2 separate regions of the Homo sapiens genome follow, and region 2 is linked to region 1. Evidence: fine-mapped expression QTL. A gene starts in region 1. The other region holds a variant in brackets. All regions are shown on one strand. Distances are from middle to middle.

Region 1 (5,362 bases):
GATTGGCTCCCCTCTTCAAGGGGTCCTAACTGGGACAAAGGCCTGGGGCGGGGGGGTCTCCCTTCTCCCCTTCCACTCAGGGCACAGATGCAGACTCTGTCCTTGGAGCCCAGAGGACCATAGACCCGGGTAGAGTCTGCACTGCAAGTACAGGCAGCAGAACCCCAGTTACAGTGGGCTGGTGGAGGCAGGAGGTCACAGGGCGAAGCGCAGGACCCTGCGGACTCCAGGGCAGAGGATCTGGGCTGGTCACTGCTGGGGGGGCACTGCAGCTCCTCTGTCCAGTCCTGTGCCTAGAGGCCACTAGCTCTAGCATTTTCTCACAGGGGCCCAGGGGACATCCAAGGGCTTGGGGCAGGATCCCTGCTGGTCCAGGCTGGATCCCCCCATGCCCCGTCCCATCCTGTTCCTGGGGAGGTATTGTTCCTGTCTGGCCTGGCCGGTGGCCTTGACCCCAGCCCACATGCTGTCCCTGGCTCAAAACCGCTCTGCAGCTCCTAGGATGAAGTCCAAACTCCTTGACATGAGCCCTCCAGCCCCTCTGCAGCCCCACCCCGACTCCCACCACCTCCTGGCCATGTCTTCAGCTCACATATGCTTCCTTCTTTCCCTTTGCTGAAAATTCTCCTCCTTCAGAACCTCCCCACCCCTATCCCACCCAGACTGGAGGCCAGGCCACCTAGGGCCCAGACATCTGAGTAGGTTCGTGTCTGCACTGCATGGTGCTGACTTTAGTGAAATAAAATTGGAAATTCATTCACAACCCTTGCGGCTCCTTCCTTCAGAGATGGCTGATTGCAGGGGGGAGTTTGGGGGAACCCATCAGCATGTTCTGGGCCCTGCAGCCTCTCCAGTGTCAGCCTGCACCAGGCTATTTGCTCTCTGTAAGCCACACCGCCCCTGCCATGCTCCTTTCAGCCCCAGGGCCTTTGCATGTGCTGTTCCTTTGTCTAGAATTCTTTCATCTCTCCTATACTTAGATAACACCTCTTCATCCATTTCCCCAGTAAAGCCTTCTCTGGCCTCACCAATTAGGTCAAATGTTCCTTAGAATGTGTTGTGGGGCATGGTCTCTCCCTGTGAGGACCTGTCCAGCTGGACCTCCGCCTTCCTGCGACTGTATTGGTGTCTTTCCCTCTCAAGCCTATGAGCTCTGCAAGGGCAGGGACCCTGTATGATTTTGCCTATCGTATGTCCTCCAGCCCCCAGCACAGCGCCTGGTGTCCAGTGAGAGCTCAGCAAATACTTTGTGAGTTAAGGACAGGCGGCTGGGTAGATGGATCGTCTGCCTAGACAGGGCAGTTATTCCGCTGTGAGCAACTCTTAGAGAAACTTCATTTTTTTTCGGCGCCTGGCCGAAACTTCAAGATGTTTCCCGGCCAGGAACGGTGGCTCACACCTGTAATCCCAGCACTTTGGGAGGCTGAGGTGGGTGGATCACCTGAGGTCAGGAGTTCGAGACCAGCCTGGCCAACACGGTGAAACCCCGTCTCTACTAAAAATACAAAAATTAGCTGGGTGTGGTGGTGGGCGCTTGTAGTCTCAGCTACTTGGGAGGCTGAGGCAGGAGAATTGCTTGAACCCGGGAGGCGGAGGTTGCAGTGAGTCGAGACTGAGCCATTGCGCTTCAGCCTGGGCAACAGAGCAAGACTCAAAAAAAAAAAAAAGATTTTTCCCAAGGAACTGAGGCCTGACTGACATGTGCTTGTGTTTACCAGGACTGTCTCTTTACAGAGCATCTATCCCTCCCACCTTCCCTCCCCTCTCTATTTTGGGATTACTGGAGTCACAGACTCAGCCCGTGGCTGGCAGCAATGCTCCACCCTGCTACAGCTGCGTTCATCTTCCTGTCCCCAGATGTGGCCCCACCTGCTGGTGCTGAGGCTAGAAGTCATCACAGCCACTCCTTCGGCCGGCTAGGAGAGTCAGGTGCAAGAAGGGTTTATGGACTCTGAGTAAGGCAAGCAGGGGCTGCCTGGGAGGCAAACGCCGCGGTCTGGTTGCACTGGCCTTTGAGATGGGCGGCTCCTTCATGCCATGGGCACCGCAGAGGCATTGGCTCTGATCCTTCAACGCTGTCGCAGGGCTCCTGAGGCTTAGAGACGGAGGTCACCTCCTGAGTCATACACAGCTGAGACATCAGTGACAGGAGAGGACCCCAACTGCGTGGATACCAGAGCCCAAGGCCCCGGAAAAGGCCATTTCGCGTGCCTCCAGGGTATGGCCTGCCTGAGGAAGCTGTTACCCCACTGACGTTTTCGTAGCAACAACAGCTTCCTCACAGAAGAGGAGGGGGGCCGAGATATTATTCCCATTCGACACAGTAGGAAGCTGGGGCCCACGGGGGCCTTCGGGGGCAGATGGCAGGCAGGCTTGGGGACAGACCCCGGAGGGCAGGAGCCGGGTCCGCCGCCCCTCCGCCGGCGCCTGCGCATTGAGGCCCAGCTCCCCTCTCAACCCCGCCCCATCGCTTGGGTTTTCAAATTTGAAACCTGCTTCTTTTCCCGCCCGAACGTGTGGATCAGCGGCGGGAGAGGGCGGGGCAGAGCGCCAGCCAATAGGGCATCAGAGGCTCCCCGACCCCGCCCCGAGGATGACAACAGCGATCCTTGAGAAGCCATGTGCGAATGGGCGAGCGGCGGCCGGAGGCCCCGCCCCCGCGGCACCCACGTGCAGCGGCTGGGCCCGGCGCTTTCAGGGGACCACCAGGCCCCCAGAGCGCCGTGCTATGTTGGGGGCTAGTCACTAGCACGGGGCTGGAAGCTGAGATCAAAGACGCCAATGAGCCGGCGTGGGTGGATGAGTGAGGCGGGCAAGAAGCAGCACCGGTTAGCCTGAGGGTTCGCTCCAGGGCCAGGCCTGGAGCCAGCGCCCTTACCTGCCCCTGGAAAGTCTGAGACCACTCGGGGCGGGGCGGCTGCCGGAGGGTGGGCTGCGGCTCCGTGGCGGGTTCCAGAGGGGCGGAGCCAAGGGCTGGGCGTTCCCGCGGGCGGGGCGTCCCGGGGGCGGGGCGGGCCCCTGTGTTTGTTGCACCGTGTCAGTTACTTTGTAACAAAAGTGCTGCAGCCGCTTGCTCCGGCCGGCACCCTAGGCCGGCCCGCCGCCAGCTGTCGCCGACATGGAACCCTTGGCCAGCAACATCCAGGTCCTGCTGCAGGCGGCCGAGTTCCTGGAGCGCCGTGAGAGAGGTGAGGAAGGACCCTTGGCTGAATTCCGGGCGGCGACCTCGCTGACACGGGCCTGGACTGGACCTGGCTCCCAGCTTGAAGGATGCACCGCCCTAGGACAGTAATCCCGGGGCGCCTCGCCCTCAACTCGAGAGGAGTCCCGGGGCGGTAGAGCAGGGACGGGTGGGGGAAATGGTCCTGGCGCCAAAAGCCTTTCCTTGACCGTGCTGTGCCTGGGGCTGCCGCTGGGACCAGGTCCAGCCCCAGCCTGACGCGGGCGGGGACTCTCTCTGGCAGAGGCCGAGCATGGTTATGCGTCCCTGTGCCCGCATCGCAGTCCAGGCCCCATCCACAGGAGGAAGAAGCGACCCCCCCAGGCTCCTGGCGCGCAGGACAGCGGGCGGTGAGGAGGCCGGGGGCGGCGGGAGTGGGGGTGGGGGTGGGCGCCGCCCCTGGTCGGGCCCTCCTCTGCCCACTTGTTGCTTGCATCTTTTGGGCCAGGTGTCCCGCTCCAGGAAGCGTTCAGACCCCTCCTGCCATCTCCCCACTCTCCAAACACACTCACACCTTTCTATTCATTCAAGGACTATTTCTTGAGCACCTCTAGATGTGCCGGGAACTGCCAACAGCAGTTGGGGTCCCGCTTCCACTCGCACTCCCGCACCCCACACATCAGGCCACTCACCTCCCCCGCTGGCTTCCTCCTCTTCTCTCCTCTCCCCAGCCCTTTGCATATGCTGTTCCCTCCTATTTGAATGCCCCTCCCTCCAGTACCGGCTTGGGAAACATCTGTTTCCGCAGTTAGCTGTCACCTCTGGGAGGTCCTTTCTGGCCAGCTGGCAGGCGCCCTTGTTAGGGCCCTCATACCCACCTGGGCAGGCTTCTGTTAAGCATTTGGCTCCGTGTGTCTTTGACTCCCCTCGCCCTGCCAGGGGACTCTGGTGTCTGAGGCCAGCATGAGCTCTCCACAGGGGACTTGTTTGGGGCAGACATCTGTAGTGGCTCTTGAGCCACTGGGGGCCCTGGGATTGGGGCATGGGCAGTAGCTGATTCCCCTTCACCTCATCCTCTCTGGCATTGGCAGGTCAGTGCACAATGAACTGGAGAAGCGCAGGTGAGTCCCAGTCCTGCCCTGACAGCGCCAGCCCCCAGGGGCCACTGCCCTCTGGCCTTCCCTCCCCTGCCATTCCTGTGGCCGGCAAGGTGGGGCTGGCACTGCCCTCCAGACCTCTTCCCCACAGGAGGGCCCAGTTGAAGCGGTGCCTGGAGCGGCTGAAGCAGCAGATGCCCCTGGGGGCCGACTGTGCCCGGTACACCACGCTGAGCCTGCTGCGCCGTGCCAGGATGCACATCCAGGTGAGGCCCCCCACTGCGCCCGGACTGGCTTGCCCTGGTGTATGGAGGGCTGTGCTATGGAGGGGCTGGTGGGACTGGGGAACGAGACCTGAGGTCAGAGCTCAAGAACTGTGTGACTTAGGACAGCTCTCTGAGCTTTTACTTTCCAGATCCATTAAATGGGAAGAAAAGCAGACAATAACTCAGAGGGTTGTTGAGGCTTAAATGAGTTCACTCTATAAATGTTCACTGTTGCTGTTACAGCTGTTATCACTTAGATCACAGCTGTGAGACCTTGGGCAGGTTACTTAGCCTGTCTGGACTAACCTTCCCTCCTGTTTGAGGGGAGGGGATGGCTGTTGAATTCTGTGATGGGATGTATGTGGGGGTCCTTGGGACTGTAGAGGGTTGGTCCTTGCTCTCCCCCTCTCACCTTCAAGGCCTCCTGTTATGGGCAGTCTATCCTGGTGCCACCTGGGAGGCAGCTCCAGGGACAGGAGGGGAAAGGACTGAGAAGACGCCAGTCACTGGTCCTCCCAGGGCTCCTGCTGCTGCTGGGGCTGAGCTCAGTGCCCCCTGGTGGACAGGAGTGGATGTGCTGAATAAAGGCCCAGGTGGCCCTGGCCATGTCAGAAGTGGCCTTGGAAACCACAGGACTTTTCCTGCCCTCTAGAGGAATACATGAAGGCACAGCTAGGCTGAGGGCCAACAAGTTGCACAGCTGATGGGCGGCAGATTCAGGACCCATGCCCAGTTCCCTGGCTTGCGTTATCTCCTCTGACAAGTGTTTACTGAGCACTGGTTCTGCTAGGCCCTATTCTAGGCACTGGGGGCTGTGGCACACAAAGACCTATGCGCTG
Region 2 (5,362 bases), 54 kb before region 1:
CAGCTCCAACAGTGGTTCTCTCCAGTTTTACCTCCCTAAGGTCACCACAATAGGATGATGGATGAAGGTGGAAACCTGGAAGGACATGAGGTGGGGGGTGGGTGGATGTCTGAGTGAGTGAAAGTTGGTGCTGAGGGTGCTTTGGAGTTGGGTTTAGAACTTGAATTGGGGTTGGAGCCATGACTGAGCAGAGACAGAAATGGAGTTGGGGTCAGGATCAGGAAGGAGGTTAGAGTTGGAGCCAGGTCACGTTCCCACCTGTTCATTGCCCACCAGGTAGACCTTGATGTCAGGTAGAGAGAGGCCTCGTTTCTCACAGATCCCTGCCAGCATGTCTCGGATGGTGAGGCCAGGTCTGGCCAGGGCCAAGGAGGCTGTGCCATCGGGCAGGTACACACAGCAGTACTTCCCTGGCCGGCTTTCACTTTCACCCTCCGTGCTCCCAAGGCTCTTCCGGTGGCTCTGATTCATGGCAGGAGTGGGGGAGATTATGTGTACACATGCAAGGGCATGCACACAGGTACACAGAGATAGGTAAGCTTGCTGGGGCTCAAGCATGCACACGCACTCCCAAGGCAGGCAAAGATACGTCCTCCTGCAGGAACACATGTATGCACACCCAGGCATATGGGCACCTAGAGACGGGTCCACCCGCTGATTCCCACACACGTGCTGTGTATACACACCTGGGTGCTGCACATGTGCACACATTTGCCAACTGAGGATGTGTACCCATGACATATATGGGGACCAATGTAGTGAGACAAGTAAGGAGGCTGAAGGGTTGGCTACGCAGAGCAAGCTGGGAGACGCAGTAAGGACAGCAACTTGGAATGAGGGCCACCACGTAAATGGGCCTGAGTAGTGACTCTAGCCCATAGAGCATCTTGTCTTCCCCAACAGTCGGCTCACCTCAGATTTGCTGCTGACGAAGGCTAGGAAGCCAAGGTCCAGGCTGGCGGAGGAGTTGAGGGAGCCCTGAGACTCTCGGCGCAAGGCGGCGTTTGCAGTCCCGCCCAGCTCTAGTGAAGAGGGAGCGATGAACGCGAACAGCCCCCCGCCCTCACCCATCCTCTGCGGAAGCCTGTTCCCCACTGGTGGGCCTTGTTTGGAGCCATCCTGCAGGGGCCCAGGTGTAAATCCCTGGGAGCGACACCACCGTTGGAGATTTCCAAACGTCTGAGGTCTAGCCCAAGACCCGAACCACCCAGGGGAGTGTGGTGGTCACTGGGACCTGGGTTTCAATTTTCACAGACTTACAGACTGTGGGCCACGTAGGAGGAAGGGGGCACTCCCCAAATTTAACCAAACTCCCGCCTTCCCCACATCTCTGTTGCTCGCTCCTGCCCTCACCCCGGCGGAAGGACTTGCGGAGAGGGCGGCCCCCAGGACCCTCAACGGGTGGCAGCTGCCCCAACTCCTCCACACCCAGCGGCAGCGACTTCCCGGGCTTCAGCTTCGGCTTCTGTGGGTACAGGGGAGGCGCTGGCACCGGGCTGGGCCCCAGCCCGCATGCAGACCGTGGGCACAGACTCGCAGATCTGCACCCGGAGGCGTCCCCTCTTGCACGCGGTCCGCAGGACCCCCTGCCTCGCCCAGTCCCTCGCCCAGTCCCACGCACCTTCCTCGTGGCGTCAGGGCTGCCGAGGCGCGAGGAGCCAGGTTCCCGCAGAGGGCGTCCCTCGGCTTCGGCTAGCAGGCACTCGCGGTACAGCGGGGACTTGACGAAGCGCGCATAGCTGTCGAACTTCATCAAGTTGAAGATCTGCGGGGCGACCCCGGAACAGGTGAGCCGGGGCTGGGGTGGGGGCGCTGGGCTGCCTGCACCCAGGCCGGGTCCTTGGGGCTGGCCCCGCCCCAAACCTAGGGCTGGATTTCCCAAGCCCCGCCCCGACCTCAGTTCCTATACCCACCCCCGGGGTCCAAGCCCGCCCCGAGCTCAGCTAGGCTCCGCCTCTAACTGTCCTTCCCCGTGCCTCTGATACCGCCCTCTGAGCTCCGCCCTGCCTGCCCCGGCATTTGGCTCTGTCTCCGCCTCCAAATTTGCCCCCTCCGCTTTGTAGTTCAGACTCCCCGCCAGGGTCCGACCCCGCCCCTGCTCCTTTTGTCTCCCTTTCAAGGCCAATCCCCCCAGGATCGCCCACCTGAAGCTGCTGTGCCCGAAACATGTCCGGCCGGGGCTCGGCCAGCACCTCCTCGCCAAGCCAGGCCTGACGGTCGATGTTCACTGGGCTCAGCGCCTGGCTGGACAGGAACTCCTGGTAGATGTTGCGGGCCTCCTGAGCTAGCTGAAGGAGGAGGGACAGGAGGAGTTGGTCAGGGAGCGTGGCCCAGTTCCCCTCTCCCCAGCCCTCGGCCCCAGCTCCCCCTTCCCCCACCTGCTGGGTATCGCTGGCCGGGATCTGCTGGAAGCGCTCGCAGGCCTTCCAGAAAGTCACGTTTTCCGCGCTGAACTCCTTCTTCAGGAACTCCTGGGAGGGGAAGGAGGGGGAGGCAGGCAGAGACTCAGAGACACAGAGACCAAACTGGGGGATGTGATCAAAAAGATTGGGACAGAGACAGGGCCAAGAGACCAAG[CCAGACAGACAGGGCCAGA/A]CAGACAGACGGAGCCAGACCGATCTGAAGACAGGGAGAGAAAATGAGAGGCAGAGACAAGGACAGGGAGAAGGAAGAAAAGTTCCCAGCTGGGAGAAGAGGAAGAGGGTGCTGCAGGAAGGCTAGATGAGGAAGCTGACAGAGGACCCCACTCTGGCCAGCCTGAAGCTCCATCCACGCCCTGCCCTCTCCCGTGTCCCCCCTTCCCTTTCCCTACCCCAGGCTTACAGTGAAGTAAGCCAGGCCCAGCGGGTCCTGCAACAGCCGCTCGAAGGACAGGGCCCAGCTGGCCACAGGCTGCTCCTCGGTTGGGAAGGGGCTGCTGGGACCACTGGGGAGGCTGTGGATGCTGAGAGAGCTGCCGCGGCCCTCGCCCTGGCCCTGGGGCCCCGTCGTGCTGCTCAGCTCTGCAGGGGGATGGACAAGTTGGGGTGAGCCTTGCTGCCTTCCCCAGCCCCTGGCACAACCCACCCTCCCCCATGCATCCACTCTGCAGCCATGTTCCCTGGAAAGATAGCAGGTGGCAGGGGTGTCCCCACCCATCTCCACCTCCCTCCTCCCTCCCACTCAGCCAGTTCTCCACACATTCTGTCACTTACCTCCATCTGACACAGCCAGAACCTATAAGAGACCCAACAGAGAAAGTCAGAAGAGCCCAGTGAGGATTCCCAGGGGACAGTTCTGGGCCCGACTCCCAGGAGCTGGAACTGCGTTCTCCTCCACCTGGGCATCCCCGGCCAGGTTCTACTTGGTCAGGGTTTTCCTCAGTCTGCCCCTGGCTCCCCTTCCATCCTGTGCCAACCACTAAGTACTGGGACTTATGGCAGGTACCTTCCAGCAGCCCCTGGTTCCCTCCTCCCCCAGCCCCTGCTGGGTGAGCCAGGTGTGCATAGCATGGTGGGTAGGAACAGACTTTAGTCTCTGCCACTTACTAGCTGTGTAACTTTGGGCAAGTTAGTTAACTTGTTTGCCTCCATCTGTAATCTGTAAATAGGAGATAATGCCTATTTACAAATGGAGGCAAACCATTTGCTTCCATCTTGATGTAAAGATCAAGTCAGTTTAATATATTCACAGCATTGGCTGGACACGGTGGCTCACGCCTGTAATCCCAGCACTTTGGGAGGCCGAGATGGGTGGATCACCTGAGGTCAGGAGTTCGAGACCAGCCTGGCCAACATGGTGAAACCCAGTCTCTACTAAAAATACAAAAAAAAAAAAAAATTAGCTGGATGTGGTTGTGGATGCCTGTAATCCCAGCTACTCGGGAGGCTGAGGCAGGAGAATCGCTTGAACCCAGGAGGCAGAGGTTGCAGTGAGCTGAGATTGTGGCATTGCCCTCCAGCCCGGGTGACAAGAGCAAAGCTCCGTCTCAATAAAAGAAAATCAAATAAAAATATATCCACAGCATCTAGAACATGGGCCAGCATGTGATATGGGCTGTATAAACATGTGCTGTCTTTGAGGAAGGAGAGGTGTCTCTGCAGCCAGTGATCTTACTATCGCACGTGTTGCCTATTGGGCCCAGGGTCCCATTACCACCGTGGGAGGGCACAAGATGCTGGTCTATAGTACAGAGCAGTGGTTCTCAAACTTCAGTGCAGAGTGGGAGGACCCCACCTCTGGAGATTCAGGTTCAGTAGGTCCAAGATGGGGCCTGAGGCTGTCCATTTCTACCAAGCTCCCAGGCGATGCTGATGCTGCTGGTTCAGGGACTACTCTGTGAGTAGTACTGCTGCAGTAACTAACTCCATCCTTGCCCCCAGTGCACAACTCTGGTTTCTCTGGGAATCCCAATCATTAGTGAAACAGAAAAACTCTCCTCTCAAAATGACTCTTGCGGTGGTTTCTCTTGTTTCTCTTTTTACCTTCCTAGCAGCTCCTCCAGCTTCCCCACTATCTCCCACTCATGCAATGTGGCCTCAACCCCTCTCTGGCTCTGTCCTGGGCACTTTGTCCCATCCACAGATCCACAGCTCCAGACACACATAACCAACTTCCTGGTAACGGCTCCAGCGCCTATCACCCCTGACTTGGGGTTAGAGGGCAGGACAGAGGCTCAGGGTGTGCGCGAGGAGGGCAGGGCCAGGCAGCCCAGCGGAGGGGGGCGAGTCCCCCCTCAAATGTCCCACAAGCCCTCAAGCTCCCAAATGGAAGTCCCAAATGGAAGCTCCCTCTGCCTCCACCAAAACACAGTACCAAACCAGCTTCCCTGCCCCCATCTTTCTTCCCATCACCCGGGCTTCCAACATCAGGGCTTGAGTCATCCCCAGTTCCTACTTCCCGCTTACCTCCTACACTTTCACCATGCCCTGTCACAGAAGTTCCTACCACCAGCCCCTTATTCCCATCCCAACTGGAAACAGGCCTGCAAACATCTCCACCCCGGAAAGCCCCCCAACCCCCACCCTCCTGAATGGAACCTTCCTCTCTGTTTCCTACTCCCACCCTGAGAGTATTCAGGTCACAGGGCGGCCATCTGTGGGCCAGATCCGGTCTGCAGATATGTGGGAAATTACTATTACCTTGGCCCTCTCAGGTTTTATTATGATGATTATTATTTTTATTTAAAGGTATTTTCCACATTTAAAAAGCAAGAGATTTTAAATTCCACTTGCTCCGTGAGACTGTAATGCTCCAGCTCCTTCCCAGCAGGACAACCTTGTCCGGGATTGAGCAGCCACCACCTTCCCCAAAAGGGCTTACACTCCTCTCAGAGGCCTCTGGGGCCAGTTTAATGCATTTATGTTACTTGTGGAGGCAGTGG

Evidence for each region. PIP is the estimated chance that this variant, and not a neighbour inherited with it, causes the effect.
Region 2: its variant is fine-mapped to the expression of MXD3 in atrial appendage (GTEx, PIP 0.99).

The regions. Positions count from the first base shown.
Region 1 is chr5:177,309,587-177,314,948 of GRCh38, reverse strand. It overlaps MXD3 (MAX dimerization protein 3), which reads left to right and starts at 3,051. Exons shown (of 6, transcript NM_031300.4): 1 at 3,051-3,188; 2 at 3,465-3,570; 3 at 4,252-4,281; 4 at 4,409-4,523. The coding sequence starts at 3,119. RefSeq lists enhancers at 1,917-1,976, 3,627-3,826, 4,084-4,950, 5,197-5,246, 5,317-5,362 and silencers at 2,197-2,766, 2,897-3,076.
Region 2 is chr5:177,363,817-177,369,178 of GRCh38, reverse strand. RGS14 (regulator of G protein signaling 14) reads right to left here. Exons shown (of 15, transcript NM_006480.5): 2 at 3,195-3,216; 3 at 2,824-3,002; 4 at 2,379-2,471; 5 at 2,145-2,288; 6 at 1,622-1,765; 7 at 1,354-1,465; 8 at 913-1,022; 9 at 259-462. Among named protein-coding and RNA genes, the nearest start is that of RGS14, 8.6 kb to the right of the region's middle. RefSeq lists enhancers at 947-1,585, 1,586-2,225, 4,199-4,248, 4,379-4,438, 4,549-4,678. The variant CCAGACAGACAGGGCCAGA/A (reference allele first, on the strand shown) is at 2,578.